Linked DNA regions of Homo sapiens: region 1 is linked to region 2. The links come from fine-mapping of genetic effects on gene expression. Tissue or cell type: sun-exposed skin. Region 2 holds a variant in brackets; the other region holds the start of a gene. All regions are shown on one strand. Distances are between the middles of the regions.

What was found. PIP is the estimated chance that this variant, and not a neighbour inherited with it, causes the effect.
Region 1: it holds the start of MYOM3, and the variant in region 2 is fine-mapped to the expression of MYOM3 in sun-exposed skin (GTEx, PIP above 0.99).

Annotation. Positions count from the first base shown.
Region 1 is chr1:24,108,175-24,116,348 of GRCh38, reverse strand. It overlaps MYOM3 (myomesin 3), which reads left to right and starts at 4,214. Exons shown (of 37, transcript NM_152372.4): 1 at 4,214-4,318; 2 at 7,695-7,873. The coding sequence starts at 7,713. RefSeq lists an enhancer at 3,504-4,012.
Region 2 is chr1:24,087,216-24,095,389 of GRCh38, reverse strand. It overlaps MYOM3 (myomesin 3), which reads left to right. Exons shown (of 37, transcript NM_152372.4): 9 at 400-537; 10 at 2,282-2,443; 11 at 3,075-3,216; 12 at 4,394-4,593; 13 at 5,272-5,325; 14 at 5,725-5,852. Among named protein-coding and RNA genes, the nearest start is that of MYOM3, 21 kb to the left of the region's middle. RefSeq lists an enhancer at 1,748-2,411. The variant G/A (reference allele first, on the strand shown) is at 5,073.

The DNA of each region.
Region 1 (8,174 bases), 21 kb before region 2:
CATAAGTCCAGGGAAGGGAATAAAAGAGAAAAGAAGGCAAGGGGAGAAAGAAGAAAGATAAGCCAGGTACTATAGTAGGTATTTTACACATTTAACCTTATCTGAGTCTCCCAGCCATTCTGCAAGATAGGCAATTGCTATAGTCTGAATGTTGGAGTCCCCCCAAAATTCATATGTTGAAACTTCATGTAATAGTAGCAAGAGGTGAGCCCTTTGGAAGGCCATGAAGGCTATGCCCTCAATAATGGGATCAAGAGGCCAGCATGGTGGTGATTCAAGCCAGTAATCCCAGCACTTTGGGAGGCCAAGGTGGGAAGATCCCTTGAGGCCAGGAGTTTGAGACCAGCCCGGGCATCACAGTGAGACCCTGTCTCTACAAAAAACGCAAAAATTAGCCTGGTGTGGTGGTGCGTGCCTATAGTCCCAGCTACTCAGGAGGCTGAGGTAGGAGGATCACTTAAGCCCAAGAGGTTGAGGCTGCAGTGAGCCATGACTGCACCACTGCACTCCAGTCTGGGCAACAGAGCAAGATCCTGTCTCGGGGAAAAAAATAAAAATGGAATGGGATTAATGCCCTTATAAAAGAGGTTGAAGAGAGTGCCCTAGCCCCTTCCACCACATGAGGACTCCACAAGAGGCACCATCTATGATGCAGAGAGCAGGTCCTCACCAGACACTGAATCTGCTAGCACGTTGATCTTGAACTTCTTGGTCTCCAGAACCGTAAGAAATAAACTTTTGTTATTTATAAATGACCCTGTCTAATGTATTTTGTTGTAGCAGCTCAAACGAACTAAGACAGTAACCATTCACTGATTCATTTTTCTTTTTTTTTTTTTTTTTTGAGACGGAGTCTCTCTCTGGTCTCCCAGACTGGAGTGCAGTGGCGCCATCTCAGCTCACTGCAAGCTCTGCCTCCCGGGTTCACCCCATTCTCCTAACTCAGCCTCCTGAGTAGCTGGGACTACAGGAGCCCACCACCACGACCTGCTAATTTTTTGTATTTTTAGTAGAGACAGGGTTTCACCTTGTTAGCCAGGATGGTCTCGATTTCCTGACCTCATGATCCACCTGCCTCGGCCTCCCAAAGTGCTCGGATTACAGGCGTGAGCCACTGCGCCCAGCCCACTGATTCATTTGTAAATAAATGTGAATTGAGGGCCAGGTGTATGCCAAGCACTGTTCTCGGGGGTAGGGATATGGTCAGGCAGGCAAGTTCTCTGCTATCTTGGAATGTGTCCTCCACCTACAGAGAAAGAAACTGAGGCCCAGAAAGGAGGCCAAGGTCCCCCTGTTAGTGACTGAGGCACCAGAGGTTGGGATTTAAACCAAGGCTTGTATAACATCAAGTCATCTAATCTCTCTGCTCAGCCGCATGACCTTAGGCTTGGCCATGTTTACAGAGGTTCCAGTGATGACTGAGTGCTTCACTGGGGTGAGGTCAACAAAGGGATACATGGGAATCCCACCCCCAGAAGCATGGGGTAAGAGAAAGCCATCAGCATTCCTAGAGCTTTCATTTAGCAAACGTCTGTCCGGGGCCAGACGCCGTGCTGGAGGTTTCACGGTTCTTGGTTGAACATTTTCTTTTCTTTTCTTTTCTATTCTTTTTTTTTTTCTTTTCTTTTTGAGACAAAGTTTCACTCCTGTCACCCAGGCTGGAGTGCAATGGCGCCATCTCAGCTCACTGCAACGTCCACCTCCTGGGTTCAAGCAATTCTCCTGCCTCAGCCTCCCAAGCAGCTGGGATTACAGGCGCGCCCCCACCACACCCAGCTAATTTTTGTATTTTTAGTAGAGACGGGGTTTCACCATGTTGGCCAGGCTGGTCACGAACTCCTGACCTCAGGTGATCCACCCGCCTCGGCCTCCCAAAGTGATGGGATTACAGGTGTGAGCCACCATGCCCAGCCTGATTGAACATTTTCAATGAGACAGCTAAGTGGAAATTGTTGTCTTCAACTGTACAGATAATCAAACCACACTGGCTGAGTGCCTTCCCCAAGGTCATCCAGCTAATAAGTGGTGGGACTGAATTGAAAGCCTAAGCCGGTTTGACTCCAGGATGCACCCTGTCTCTCCAGTGCACCTTCATTCATCTCCCCAGATTGCCTTGGGAGGACGGGGCTAGAGGACCTGTTTAAATGACTGTCTCCTGCTCAGTTGGAAGCTCAAAGCCCTCTTTGCTGTTCGTACGGATTCACTCACACTCATCCCTCACAGCAAATGTATGAAGATGAGTCTTGGAAAGCCCTTGTTCGATTGGGTCAATAGAAGATGGGAGAGAAATGTTCTCTCCCAAAAGATGCTGTAAGAGAGAGCCACAGAAGAGCTTAGAAAGGGGTTTTCAAATAGGGCAGGGGATTCAGATTTTGCCTGCAAAGTTCACTTGTGCTCTCTCTCTCCTTCTCTCGAGTGAGGAGTCCCTGAGGCACCAGCAAGAGTGACAGGTGTAGTGTGGGTGGCCACCTGAGGTCGCAGGAAGGGGTGAGGGAGGGAAGCTGTGCTCTCTGGCTAGGGGCCGGTACAGCCTTCCCCTCACCGGCTCATCCTCTGAGACTCGACCCAGGTGCACCTTCCTGATCACCTCCTGTCGTAAGTGCCTGACTTCCCCTGTAGGTTAGGGTCTGGCATAGGGTAGGTGCCAATGAATGTGAGGGGGAAAGAATTGAGACTGAGGGAATGGCAGGAGAGGGCAAAGGGTGGGAAGAGGTGTGGTGCCGAACACCTATTAACCTCAGTAGGGAAGGCACCAGGTTTGAGAGGCCAAAGAAAAGATCCATAGCCAGCAAACGGAACATGGGGGTTTCAGGAGGCGGAGGTTGCAGTGAGCTGAGATCATGCCACTGCACTCCAGCCTGGACAACAAAGTGAGACTCTGACTCAAGAAGGAAAGAAAGAAGGAAAGAAGGAAAGAAAGAAAGAAAGAAAGAGAGAGAGAAGGAAGGAAGGAAGGAAGGAGGGGGGGAGGGAAAGAAGGAAAGAAGGAAGGAAGGAAGGAAAGAGAAAGAAGAAAGAAAGAAAGAAAGAAAGAAAGAAAGAAAGAAAGAAAGAAAGAAAGAAAGAAAGAAAGAAAGAAAGAAAGAAAAAGAAAGGGAGAGAAGGAAGGGAAGGAAGGAAAGGAAGGAACGTGGGGGTTTGTTAGGGGCTTGCCTACAGGAGAGAGAGTCCACTGGTGATGAACTGGACAGGAGAACCGCCTTACATACAGAAATGGTCCAGGGGCGGCGGGCTGGACAACATACCAGTGGCGGCCGACTGGGCAGGAAAACCTCAGCCCCTTGCAAACAGCATGCAGTTTATAGAGCATTTTCACTTTACACCATCCCCTAATGACCTCCACCTGGCAATCTTCATTTAACCCAAAACTCAGGGCCTCAATCCCCTGTATGGCCAGCGTTCCACCAGAAGGGACGGGACGGGGGCTCAGATATTCATCGTAGGTAAGAAACGGGTTGGCTACTCCCCAGATTCCTTAGCTCGGAACACATATTCAGGTCTTCCACACAGGGTCATTCTTGGAGCGTGCTTCAGTTATCCCTGTCAGGTGCGTTTACCCTATAAGAAGGCCCTTCAGGGGACACTCTGGCAGCCTGAGCAGTTTGCACAGTGAAGCAGTAGGTGGCTCCCCAGCTCCTCCTGCCTGCACCACACCACACACACATGACTGTGGTCAGGGCGGGGGCCGTGTAGTAACTACCGGAGTGGTGGAGGGACCAGGAGCCACACATTGCTGTTTTAGCCAGTGACAACTTCTGAGCACGAAACACTCACTTTTAGGTCATATTCCTTCCACCGTCTTCATGAAGTCCAGGTGCCCAGTCTCACTGTCTCCGTTTTTCAGAAGGCAGTCAGTTCAGGGAAGCTGAGCGCCTTCCCCAGGGCACCCAGTCAGCCGGGGCAGAATTCAGATCAGAACTCCCGACAGCTGAGAACGCCGCACGGGATCTGCCCTCCATACGACCATGCCTGAGCCGTTCCCTCCTTTCCATTTTAACAGGGGCTTGGGTTGGGCAGAAAGGACCCAGCTGAGAGGAGGAGCAGTGTGGGGGGACGCGGCGGACAGCTCCACCTGTCGCTGCTGCCCAGCAGGCTGGAGACACGGAATGGCCCCTCCCCTTGGCCCCCTGTCCCCGATGCCATAGTTCTCATCCATTGTCATTGTACTGTCTCAGTGCTGCTATATTTAAGACGGTGCAGTCTCCGGGATCGCATTCTTCTCCCGGTGCCCGCTGAGCCGAGGGCAAGAAGAGAACAAGGACCCTCTCGGCCTCAGGAATCTTCTCCCCAGAGACTCCTAAGTGGGCACACTGCTTCTGTGAGTCACCCCCAGAAATCAGGGTGGGGGAGGGATGCCTCCTAAGAGTCAGCCACTGGGGAGTGATATCTGTGGGTGCATGTGTGTGTGTGTGTGCACGTGTGTGTGTTTGTGTGTATGTGTGTTGTGTGTTGTGAAAGGAGCCTGGGAAATTTGTGCTGAGGCAGCACCCAAGTGAAAATGGGAGGGGATTCCAGAAACCCCTGCCCCATCCCACTGTTCTGTGTGGCCCTGGGTCTTCTGAGAGCTGAGCTGTCTGTGATGTGAAAGTTGCAAAAAAAAAAAAAAGAGTGGGGGCTGCCCTGGGAACTGGAGTCTTTCCTGTGATGGAGCAGCGATAAGCGGGAGCCAGGCTAAGCTGGCAAGTTCCACGAACTTAGAGCGGAGCTGGCTGAGCCCGGCTTGGCCAACCCCACAGGCAGGGAAAGAGAGCGAGCCCTCGGATCCCAAATCTTAGAGCTGGAAGGGATTTCATCCAGTGCCTGACAGGAAACCGAGGCCCAGACGGGAAAGGAGTTGCCTCAGCTCATGACTGGCAAGGGCAGGATTCGGCCTCGCGGAAGCTGGTGGAGCCACTGGCTAAGAACACGTCCCAGCCTGTGCCACCCGCCGCCCGCAGGATGTGTCTCTGCTCCCAGCCACCATCCGCCCCCATCGCAGCTCCTGGAGGGGTCTTGGCTCAACTGCTGTGCATTCCTCTTTCCCTCCTGAAGAAGGGGAGAGGCCTCCTCGGCAGATGGAGGCTTGGGAGGAAAGCAGAGGGGAATAGGGAAGGCCACGCAGTGGGACCTCTGGCCCAGATTTTTGCACCCCAAGAGAGGGAAGCGGGGGCAGTTTCCCCTCCACGCAGGCACACACAGTGTTCCGGGAAGAGGCACCCTGGTCCTTTGGGAAAGGGCAGTGAGGCCGCAAACTTGTCCCTGCTTAATACCACGCATCAGTCAGTGCTTTAAAAAGAATTGGTAGCTCATCCGCTAAAGCCAGGGGTCTGGTTGCTGGAGGCCCCGAGGTCAGGGACGAGCGCCAGGCCCCTGCCTGCTGTGCTAATCGGGAACAGAGCATCCAGGGGAAGGGAGCCAGTGGCTGGTGCCAGGGAATGTTAACTCTCAGCCACTGGAGCCAGGGCCATCGTGTCCCAGGAAAGCTGGGGCAGAGTGGGGGGTCCTTGCTCCACCTAGGGTGGTACCCAGCAGCTCTCCTCCTGGGCCATGAGGAAGAAAGAGCAGAATGAGCAGGGCTAGCCACTTCTTTGGGTGCAAAGAGAACTTCTTCCATCGGGAGGGAGTGATACGAAGCCAAAGAGGGTGACTGTCCCATTATGTCATTTGAGATGATTAGCAGGAGCCCAGGGAGCTTTAGGGGGCAGCCCTTGGTCCCAGCTAACCCTGCAGCCATCCATTCTCTTTTTCCTGATGCCCACAACTGCAGACACCCAAAAGGAGCAAACTTCTAGGAAGTAGAAGGGGTAAAAGCCCACTAAGACTGACCCTCCACAGCCCGAGCCCCAGACACCTCCACCACATGCCCCTTCCAGGCCAACGGCTCTCCAATAAAGCCAGTGGGCTCACCTTCCATGCCATGGACTTAGAGAAATGGTCACCTAGGTGCTGTGTTCACATCCAGGCAGAAGACAGCCTACACATGCACGCACACACACACATACACACACATGCACGCCCACACACACACACGCTGCCACCTCCAGCAGGACCCTCTAGAGAGGCAGGGGCCAGACAGAGCTGACCCCACAGAAGCTGACAGGAGCAGGCCAAGGCAGGCGGTCATCCCTCTTCTGTTTCCATCCCCACGCCTGGGCAGGAACCCTCCCATGCCAGAAGCCTGCAGACCAGGATTCCCACCTGGAGGAGGTGTGAAAGCCATTCCAGGGATTTTAGCTTTAGCATCAGGGGGGCCCTCAGAGACCCAGCAGTGACTGAAGCCCGGATATGAGAAAACTCAGTGCAAAAACCCACAGCCAGCGGGCACACGGGCCTCCCACACCCCTCGTTTGCCTCTCCATATCCATGGATCCGCTTCCTGAGCCTCCCCTGGGTCAATCTGATCCGGCCCCACTGGGCGCCATCACGGGCCTAGACTTGAGCCTTGGGAATGCAAAGGAGATGTGTACATTGCAATCCCCTTATAAGGAGAAAGGCCCTGTGGCCCACCGTGTCCCCAGCCTCTGCCACGGCCTGGCCTTGAATGGACATATGACATAGAGATCAGAAGGGCTAGGGGTTGGGCTAGGGATTGGCTGCCAGTCATGGCCCCACCATCATGCTGGGTGACCTTGAGCAAGTACTGCCCCTGTTCATCAGTAAAATGGGATAATAATGGTGCTGTCCTCATTTGGGTTATTGCAGGGACTGGGGATAATGCATTTGAAAACTAACATGGGCATGGAACATAGTAAGTTCTCACTATTGTTACTTTTAATTCACTTACAGTCTTGTTGAACAGTCAAGATGCACAGATACAAAATAATTACATAGAGAAAGCATTGTCTGAATCAATGCTAAATTGTGGAGTGCTAGAAAATAAGTACAAAAGAAATGAGAAGAGGGAAAATTCTAGGTGGCCTGTAGTCTTTCTGCAAGGCTTCTTAGAAAAATAATGCTAATGCCTAATACTTATGTTGTACTTACTAAGCCCCAAGCACTCATCTAACCTTCACAACTACCCTGGGAGGTTAGTAGACCCATTTTACAGATGAGGAAACAAAGTCATGAGTCTTTCCCAAGGTTACACACTTGAAAGCTGGGATAAGGAGCTGGGATCACACCCTGTGGGCTGGACTCAGAGTCTCTCTGCTAATTAGCATGCCCTCAGTTGGGGTTTGAAGCATGACTAGAGCCAAGCGGGCCAGGAGGAGGGGAAGGGTGTGCCGGGAGAGGAAACCAGCGTGGGCAAAGGCCCAGAGGTAGGACTGAACATGGCCGGTGCAGGAAGAATGGGGACGCCTGCCCGTCCTGAGTCATAGACACAGCCGTGGACATCACAGTTTCAATTACTCATTGTCTGGGGAGCTGAGGCCCATAGAAGCGAAAACCTTGCCACAGATCATACAGTGAGACAAGGGCTGGGCTGCAGCTGGAAGCAGCTAGAAGCCAGGGCCCTGCTCCCTAACGTGGGGGCTCTGCTCACTCAGCTGGGGAGCACATGGGGTGGAGGAGAAGCCTGGCTCAGAGCCCAAGGCCTGCCTCTGTCACCTTGGGCAGGTCCCTCTCCCTCTCAGACCTCAGTTTCCCTGTCTGCCGACTGCAGAGAGGACACCCCCACCCCCCATCCTGCCAGCCTCCTAGAGATGTTGGGAAGACTGCATGGGAGGGGATAGGCGGGCACCTGGTGGAATGACCGTGGACCTTGGCCTTCACAGGTTGTTGCTCTCGTAACCATGACTCTGCCGCACAGCTTGGGAGGTGCGGGGGACCCCCGGCCCCCCCAGGCCATGGAGGTTCACAGGCTGGAGCACCGGCAGGAGGAGGAGCAGAAGGAGGAGCGGCAGCACAGCCTGCGCATGGGCTCCTCTGTGCGGAGGCGGACCTTCCGCAGCAGGTGGGAGCCACAGGGTCCCCGCCCAGCCACTGCCCTGTTCCCAGGGCCCCCAGTCTGAGGAGGGAGGCCCAGCCTAGCCCTCTGGAGGCTCCAACCTGATGGGGGGAGGGACATCCCTGCTTTCTGAACCCCCTGTCTGAGGGGGGAGACACAATTGGCTCTCTGGAGACCCCCATGTGATGGAAGAGGCACAGCCCTGTCCTCTGGAAACCCTGTTTGAGGAGGGAAGCACATTCAGGGTCGGGGGGATGCAGCCTTGCTTTCTGAGACCCCAGTATGAGGAGGGAGGCACAGCCCTGCC
Region 2 (8,174 bases):
CCCCGACCCCCACAGTCCCTGTTTAGAATATAGCCATCCCCTGCCCATAAAAGGACGTCCACCGGGGTTTGTCTATGAGCTGGTAATACCTGCACCTGACTTCTAAAGGCCGCAGGGTACCCCAGAGCTGTCCCCAGCTGCTGAGCTGTTCTCTGACCTAAACTGGGTTTGAAAGGCAAAGCCAGAAAAACCAACGGACTTGGCCTTGGGATGTTTGCTCTTTGGCTGCTCTGACCACTACCTAGATAAGTCTCTTCCCCTCCTACCCCAAGGCCAGGTCCCCTTCTCCTAGTCAAGACCCAGAAGAGAAGGGATGCCCCAGAAATTTCCTCACTCCTAAGTCCCAGGCCAGGCTGGCTGCCTCAAAAACTTCTGCCCCAAATTTCATTCCCACGCCAGGATCGACGTTTGGCCCCAGCGTGGAATTCACCTCGGTGCTGAAGCCAGTCTTTGCTCGTGAGAAGGAACCCTTCTCCCTGTCATGCTTGTTTTCGGAAGATGTGTTAGATGCTGAGAGCATCCAGTGGTTCCGAGATGGTAAGGACCCCCAGTCCTGGCCCCCAGCCTCCAGAGCTGGCCCCTCCAAAGCTCAACTCAGAGCCAGAGAGGACCCCTAGCGGACAGAGACTCTCCCCAACCAGTACCAACTGTGCTAAAGTGCTGAAGAGGCAGAGGAGAGCGGGAGTGCAGCCAGGTGTGGTCAGATCATGCCACCCCATAAATGGCCACCAAGCATCTGTGGGGTGCCAGGCCCTGGGTTAGGGCTGGGGTAAATGGTAGGGGCAGATGTGCATGAGCCCAGGGGGCTGTGTCCACCTGGGAGGAGGGAGGAAGCCATCAGCACAATTGTAGCCGCTGGCACTGACCAGGCACCTGCTCAGCCATTTGCATGCATCATTACCTCCCTAAGAGTGAGGGAGGGAGGCCAGGCGTGGTGGCTCACACCTGTAATCCTAGCACTCTGGGAGGCTGAGGTGGGTGGATCACCTGAGGTCAAGAGTTCAGGTCTAGCCAACATGGCAAAACCCCATCTTTACTAAAAATACCAAAAATTAGCCAGGCATGTTGGTGGGTGCCTGTAATCTAGCTACTCGGGAGGCTGAGGCAGGAGAATCGCTTGAACCCAGGAGGCAGAGGTCGCAGTGAGCCGAGATGGCACCATTGCACTCCAGCCTGGGGGACAAGAGCAAGACTCCATCTCAAAAAAAAAAAAAAAAAAAAGTGAGTGAGGGCACTCAAAGCAATGGGAACAGAGCCCCAAGATCGGGAGGCAGGAGGGCACCACAAGTGCTCAGGGCAGGCTGCAACAGTTGCATCGGACTTTGCAGAGTCAGGGTGGTGGTGCAGATACAGTTGCTGACCCGTGGGCTGGGAGGCCTCTGGGGATGTCTCAGGCGAGGCCTTGAGAAGCCTGGTCAGAGCCAAGGCAGGAAGACGTGGCCCAGTGAGGGAGGAGGACGACGGCTGGACCTCCTACCCAATCCATGACTAGGCCTATAGCCTAAGGACCCAGAGTACAGTGCCCCTCTGGCACCCCCAGCTCTGAGCCCAGGGAGGCTGCACCTGCTGGGAGCAGGGAGTATGGGAGCCATCAGGATCCCTGACAGCTGCAATAACAAGGCTGAGACGTCTTCCCAAACGTGTAGATCTTCCAGAATGGAGGTGCTGAATGGAGGGCGGATCCTTCACATGGGGCAAAGAGAAGAGCTGGCCCCACAGTGTGGCCTCAAGGCAGGGCCCGCCCCTGAGCCCTGGACTCCACTTCTGAGTCCCCATCCACCTCCTAAGCTCCCATCCCGAGAGCCCTCACTCCCTTACCTGACCCCTGACCCCACGACACGTCCTCCACCCGCCTCACCGAGGCCCCAGCTCTCTCAGTGAGACCCAGGCCCTTTACTGAGCTCCCACCTCCCCCAAACGGGCCCTCCTTCTTTGAGTCCCCTGACCCCATACAGGGACCCATCTCTCTTGCTCCTACTCCCTCAGAGAACCTACAACTCCTCACCTTGTCACTGGCTATGTCCCTAAACCCTCACTCCCTCATTGAGCCCCAGCCCCGCACTGGCCCTTCCCTACTCCCCAAGCCCTCTGCAAAGGAGAGTTCTCCACTGCCTGCCTTGGCAAAGCCCTGGAGGCCACCACCCCCACCCAAGGCCTGAGCTGAGCCTCACCAGCCTCTCTCTCTGCCCAGCCAGGGTCTCCAGACCCCCCAGTTTCTGTGGTTCCCAGGTGAGACCAGGACCCCCCACAAACTCAATGGCCCCCCACTTCCCCTCCACAGGGAGCCTACTGAGGTCCTCGAGACGTCGGAAGATCCTCTACACAGACCGCCAGGCATCCCTGAAGGTGTCCTGCACCTACAAGGAGGACGAGGGGCTCTACATGGTCCGGGTGCCCTCGCCCTTCGGACCCCGGGAACAGAGCACCTACGTGCTTGTGAGAGGTGAGGGCATGGGTGGGCGCAGGGTAGCAGCAGGAGCCCAGAGACCAGGGCTCTGCCCCTTGTTTGCTGTGGAACCTTAGGCAAGGACCCTGCTCTCTTGGGGCCTCAATTTCTCTACCATAAAATCAGGGCTTTGGGTTGGGGTCTCCAAGACTCCCCGTGGCATCCTATGACCCTCCAAAGGGACATGGCCCGAGAGTTAGCCTGGCTGGAGCCAGGGAGGCTGGGAGCTGAGTGTGGGGCTGGAGTGATTCTGGCCACTGCTTAGGGCCTGGGTTCACATCCTGGCTTTGTCACTTCACCAGCTGGGTGACTTTGGGCAGGTCACTCACTCACCTCCAGGAGACTCAGTTTCCCCATCCAAAGAGGGGAAGGCTGCTCTGGGGCTGGAATTAATTATTCCACTTGTTCAGGTACTTGGTGTAAAATGGGCCCCCAAGAAATGGTACTGTCATCCTTCCCTCAGATACTGCTATGGGGGTAGTGGGACTAATATTCAGGCCCCAGTCCTCAAGATCAAAACTGAGCCCCTGGAGGATGGATGAGAAGAGGATGCTGGGCGGGAGTGGGAAGGGCCTGTCACCAAATGGCCACTGACTAGAAGGGCCTCCCTCTCACCCCCGGGTTTCAGATGCCGAGGCCGAGAACCCCGGGGCCCCAGGCTCCCCACTGAACGTCCGATGCCTGGATGTGAACAGAGACTGCCTCATCCTGACTTGGGCCCCGCCCAGTGACACCCGGGGCAACCCCATCACTGCCTACACCATTGAGCGGTGAGTCGACCTCGTGAGTGGCAGAGGCCCTAGGGGTAGAATTCTGTCTGGTGGTGGGAGCCACAGCAAAGAGGAGGCCCCATGTCTGACCTCAGAGAACCCTCACACCCCCGCTCCTCAGAAAAGGACAGGAGACAGGCTGTGCTGTGTCATTTAGGGGCAATGGAGGGGCATCCACACCTCCAAGTCTTTGTCATGCTGATAACTGGAATTCTATGCTGGAGTCGGCCACTGCCCTGTGGACCCTCTAGAGCTGACCCAGAGGGGCAAAACGGGGAGTGCTTGAACCCTGAGCACAGTGAATTCGTGGGCTAGTTTCCTTCCTAATGACAGAGAGAGATGGAATAGCACTGACCCCAAGGGAGGAGGCAAACAGGTAGAGAGGCCAGAACCTCCGGCCTTTTTCCAGTGTGGCCGGCTCTGAAGGCCCAGCTTGAGAAAATAGCTAATGCTGCCACGGACAGGCTCATGACCGTGCTAAGGGCATGCCTCATCTCTTTCCATCCTTCCAATGACCCGTCTCTAAAGGGGAGGGGGACTATCTAATGCCCTCTTCTATAGATGGGGAAACCAAAGTATGTGGGGAGATGACTTTGCTCAAAGACACATTTGTCATTAGTGGTGGAGACAAGACTTGGACCCACATGTGACGACTACCTCAACCAGCTGGTAACAATAAGGGTAACGTGCACTGTCGTACTGCCTGGAACAATGGTACCAAGAGGGTACAGAGAGCCCAGGCTTGGAGGGTCAACCTGGAATGCATGCCAACTTAGGGAGGGGACAAGCTCAGGTAAATCCTAACTGTGTGACCTTGGGCAGGTCTTGTCACTCTCTGAGCCACAGATCCTCCATGTGTGCAGTGAAGGTGACCACACGTGCCCCCTAGGACTGCCAGGGAGATAAAACGAGGGCTGGGTGTGGAGGGCACAGCACAGTCACAGGCTCACGATGATGCCCCATGAAAGGCACTGCTGCTGGTCAGTGTCAGGGATGGTGAAAAGGTCTCCCGGGGGCCCGAGGTTGGAGCCAGGCTCTTCCATTGGAGAGAAGAACTTTAATTGGCAGAGATGAGCTGGGCAGGCTCCCCCAGTCAGAGAAAGGCCCTTGTAGAGGCTCACATTGGGAAGGTGTGCATTGTGGGCAGGGGCTGAAAGGGGGGGCCTGTCTCCAACAGGTGCCAGGGCGAGTCTGGGGAATGGATCGCCTGCCATGAGGCCCCCGGAGGGACTTGTCGGTGCCCAATCCAAGGCCTCGTCGAAGGTCAGAGCTATCGGTTCCGGGTGAGAGCCATCAGCAGGGTAGGCAGCAGCGTCCCCTCCAAGGCCTCAGAGTTGGTTGTCATGGGTGACCATGATGCAGCCCGGAGGAAGACAGGTGGGTACAGAGGTCCTAAGCGACTTTCTAGAACATCAGTCAGGGAACCCTCAGGACTGTCTCACACAGGAGACAATCCAGCCCTCAGGAGCCCCGAGTCTGGTGGAGGAAGCACAGCCCAGCCCTCAGTAAACACTAGTCTGATGAAGGAGACAAAGGCCAGCCCTCGAGAACTTCCAGTCTGATGGAGGAGACACAATCCGGTCCTTAGGAACCCCTAGCCTGAGAAGGAAGATACAGCTAGTCTAATGGGAGAAACCAAACCTGTCCATGGGAGAGACCAGTCTGAGGGAGCACCCTACCCCAGCACCTGTCAGATGTCCTTAAGCTCGAGTGCGGGGACACGGCCTCCTCTCAGCCCTCGGGAGCCACGCTGACTTGGGTGTGCTAGAAGCTCCACCGTGGCAGGGTGCCCAGCGCCAGGCACCTCCCTCCTCCTCTCTGTCTCCACTTGTCCCAAGAGGAAGAGCATGTGCCAG[G/A]GCCTGAGAGCAGCAGGGCTCCACTTGGGACTCCTGAGAAAGCTGAGGCCAGAGGGAGGGCACCTGTCTGAGGTTGCACAGCGAGGGCTGCAAGGCCAGGACTGGGACGGGGCAGGACGCAGACCCTGGTGTGGGGTAGCTCCTGGCCTAACTCCTCCTGTGCCACCCCCCACCCTCCCATGCTCCCTTCTCATCCTAGAGATCCCCTTTGATCTGGGAAACAAGATCACCATCAGCACAGACGCTTTTGAAGGTACGCGGGATCCTCCCACACACTGGGCCTCCTGTATAGTTCTCAAAACTCTGGGACATGAGCTGGCAAAGAGGCAGAAGCTGTCCCAGTGCAGGGTGTGGGGGATGAGGGCAGGTGGGGCCTAGTTGGAGGCAGTCAGAGTGCTGGGGTCACTGTGGCCCATCTGGCTGTGGCCCTCCTGGAGGAGGGAACACATTGGGAAAAGTCCTGGCCAGAGCAGTGGGAGACCTGGGTTCTAGCCCCGGCTCTGCCCAGCATTGCTGAGTGACCTGGAGCCAACTACTGCCCCTCTCTGGGGGATGGGTAGGGGTGTAGTTCCCTCTTCCATGGAATGAGGCACTGAGATTAGGGGGTCTCTGAGGGTCCAACCATCTCGGTCCCGGGTGACTCTGATTTCAGATACTGTGACCATCCCCTCACCGCCAACCAATGTCCATGCCAGCGAGATCCGAGAGGCCTATGTGGTTCTGGCCTGGGAGGAGCCCAGCCCCCGGGACAGAGCACCACTGACGTACTCCCTGGAGAAGGTAGGGAACCCCGAGGCCCCAGCCCCAGGCCAGCCTGAGAAACAGATGTGCTGTGGGACCCTGGGCAGTGTCCCCTGGGGAGGCCGTCAGAGAATGAAAGAGAATCCCCTGGCCAGAAGGGCCCAGGCATGGCCCTACACAGAGGCAAGGGGATGGATTGAATAGCCTTTTGCAGCTACCTCTAGCCCTGGAAGCCAGTCACTGCTGGTCGTTCCTGAGGCTGTTCGTGGAAATACACAAAATACAAGACACAGACAACAATGACAATACGATCCACCACTTCCTGGGTACCTCCCTGCCCCCAAGCCAGATGGCATCAGACCACACATTGGGGCCAAGCACTTCTTGGTGGGACTATGTTGGGAGGGAAACAAGGCTGGTACCCTCCAGCCAGGGACAGGCACCAGCAGCACTTGCAGAGCCTATGGTGTGATTAGCACTAGGAGGTGGCTCTCACTGGGGAGTGGGGGCAGGGGAGACCCCGGCGGGGATGAGGCAGGTCTTGTGGAGTGAACTTCACAGTGGAGGGGGGGCAGTATGGCAGAGTAGAAGACAGCATGGTGTCAAAATCTATTCAAATCCTTCCTTGTGCTGTGTGATCCTGAGTGAGTGTCCTAAACTCTCTGAGCCTCAGTTTCCTCCAGCATAGAATAGAGAACCTGCCCTGTGAAGATGAAATAAAACACAGCCCACAGCCAAAGCCAGCAACCCCTGGGATCTGTCAGTGCTTCCCAAGGAGGTGTTCTTGACTATCTCCCTGAAGTCAGAGACTAAGTTTATCTTCTCATTACTTTCTGTGCCCAGCACAATGCCTGGCACAAACTAGGTGGACAGAAAATGTTTAGGGAATAAATGAATTTAAAATTTCCAGGGAGGAATCTCTGGCTCTGATTATCCAAACAGGCCTCTCTTTTCACACTCATGGGTAATCCTTTTTCTCCGACATAGGAAAGCTGTAGATAATTGAGGATTTGTTTCACAAGGTGGTAGTGTATCATGGTGAAGATGTTGGCGTCAGACTGCTTGGGTTCAAATTCTATCTCTGCTACTTACCAGCTGCGTGACCTTGGGCAAGTTACTTAGTTTCTCTGTGCCTCTGTTTCTTCTTCCATAAAATGATAATAATCATACACAGCTTGTAGGGTTAATGTGAGGATCAAATTAATTAGCGCACATAAAGACTTAGAATGGAGCCTGGCACACAGTAGGAGCTCAGCAGTGTTCATGGTTTCTTATGGCAATTTCTTGTCCTACCTGGTCTAGGCCACTGACAGCCAGATGGGCTTGTGGGGGGAAAACCACAGAGCGTGGAATCAGTGGGTCCCCTTGTGCTTCTAGGTCTTAACTCTCTTGCCCAGACTCAGCAGAAAGGGTCTCTGGGTACCTCACTCATCTGTCTCACCCTGGGCTCTCCACCCTCCATCTGCCCAGAGACTCGGGGTTTCTGGCTGCCTTCTGGGTCCCTGATGCTGTGGAGAGTAAACAGGTTCGCAGCCAACCACACCTGAGTGAAGTTTAATACTATATCCACCAGTTATTAGATGCAGGACTTTTGGCCAAGTTACCGAAACTCTCTGAACCTGACTTTCCTCATCGGCAGAGAAATTAACACCTTCCTGCAGGGTTATTGTGAGAATTCATTCATTTGTTCATTCATTTGTCCCAGAAACATAGATGGAGCACCTGCTATGTGCCAGTCCTGTTCTTGGCCCTAGGGACACGGCAGTCAGGGGAGGGGGTGCCAATGATAAATGGAGTAAATCAGTAGAATATTAAGCACAGTAGTGAGTGGTAGGCGCTAAGGAGAAAGACATTGAGCAGGGAGGGGAACTTGAAGTGTGGGGAGAGGAGCTGCTGACATTTTTAGATGGAGTGGCTGGGATGGCCTCCCCACTGCCCAGGAAGGTGGATTTTTATTAAAGGCCTACAGGAAGCCAAGAGATTTCTCGGAGAAGAACATTCCAGGCTGAGGGACCAGCAAGTGCAAAGGCCCAGAGGTGGGACTTGGACCCTCAGGAAACAGCAGAGAGGCACAGAGACTAAGGGCAGAGGGAACGGTGGCCAGACAGGCCGAGGGGTCAGGCGATGGGGAAGCTTTTGCTCTGAGGGAGATGCGGGACGTGGGAGGGTTCTGGGCAGACAGGGACCTGGTCTGACACGTGCTATAAAAGGATCCCCCTGATGGCCATTTGAGACAAGACGGAAGGGGGTTATAGGTAGAAATGGAGGGGAGACCAGTCAAGAGGCCATTGAGATCGTTCAGGTGCGGGGTGCTGGCAGCCTGCATCAAGGTTATGGTGGGGAGCATGAGGACAATAAGGC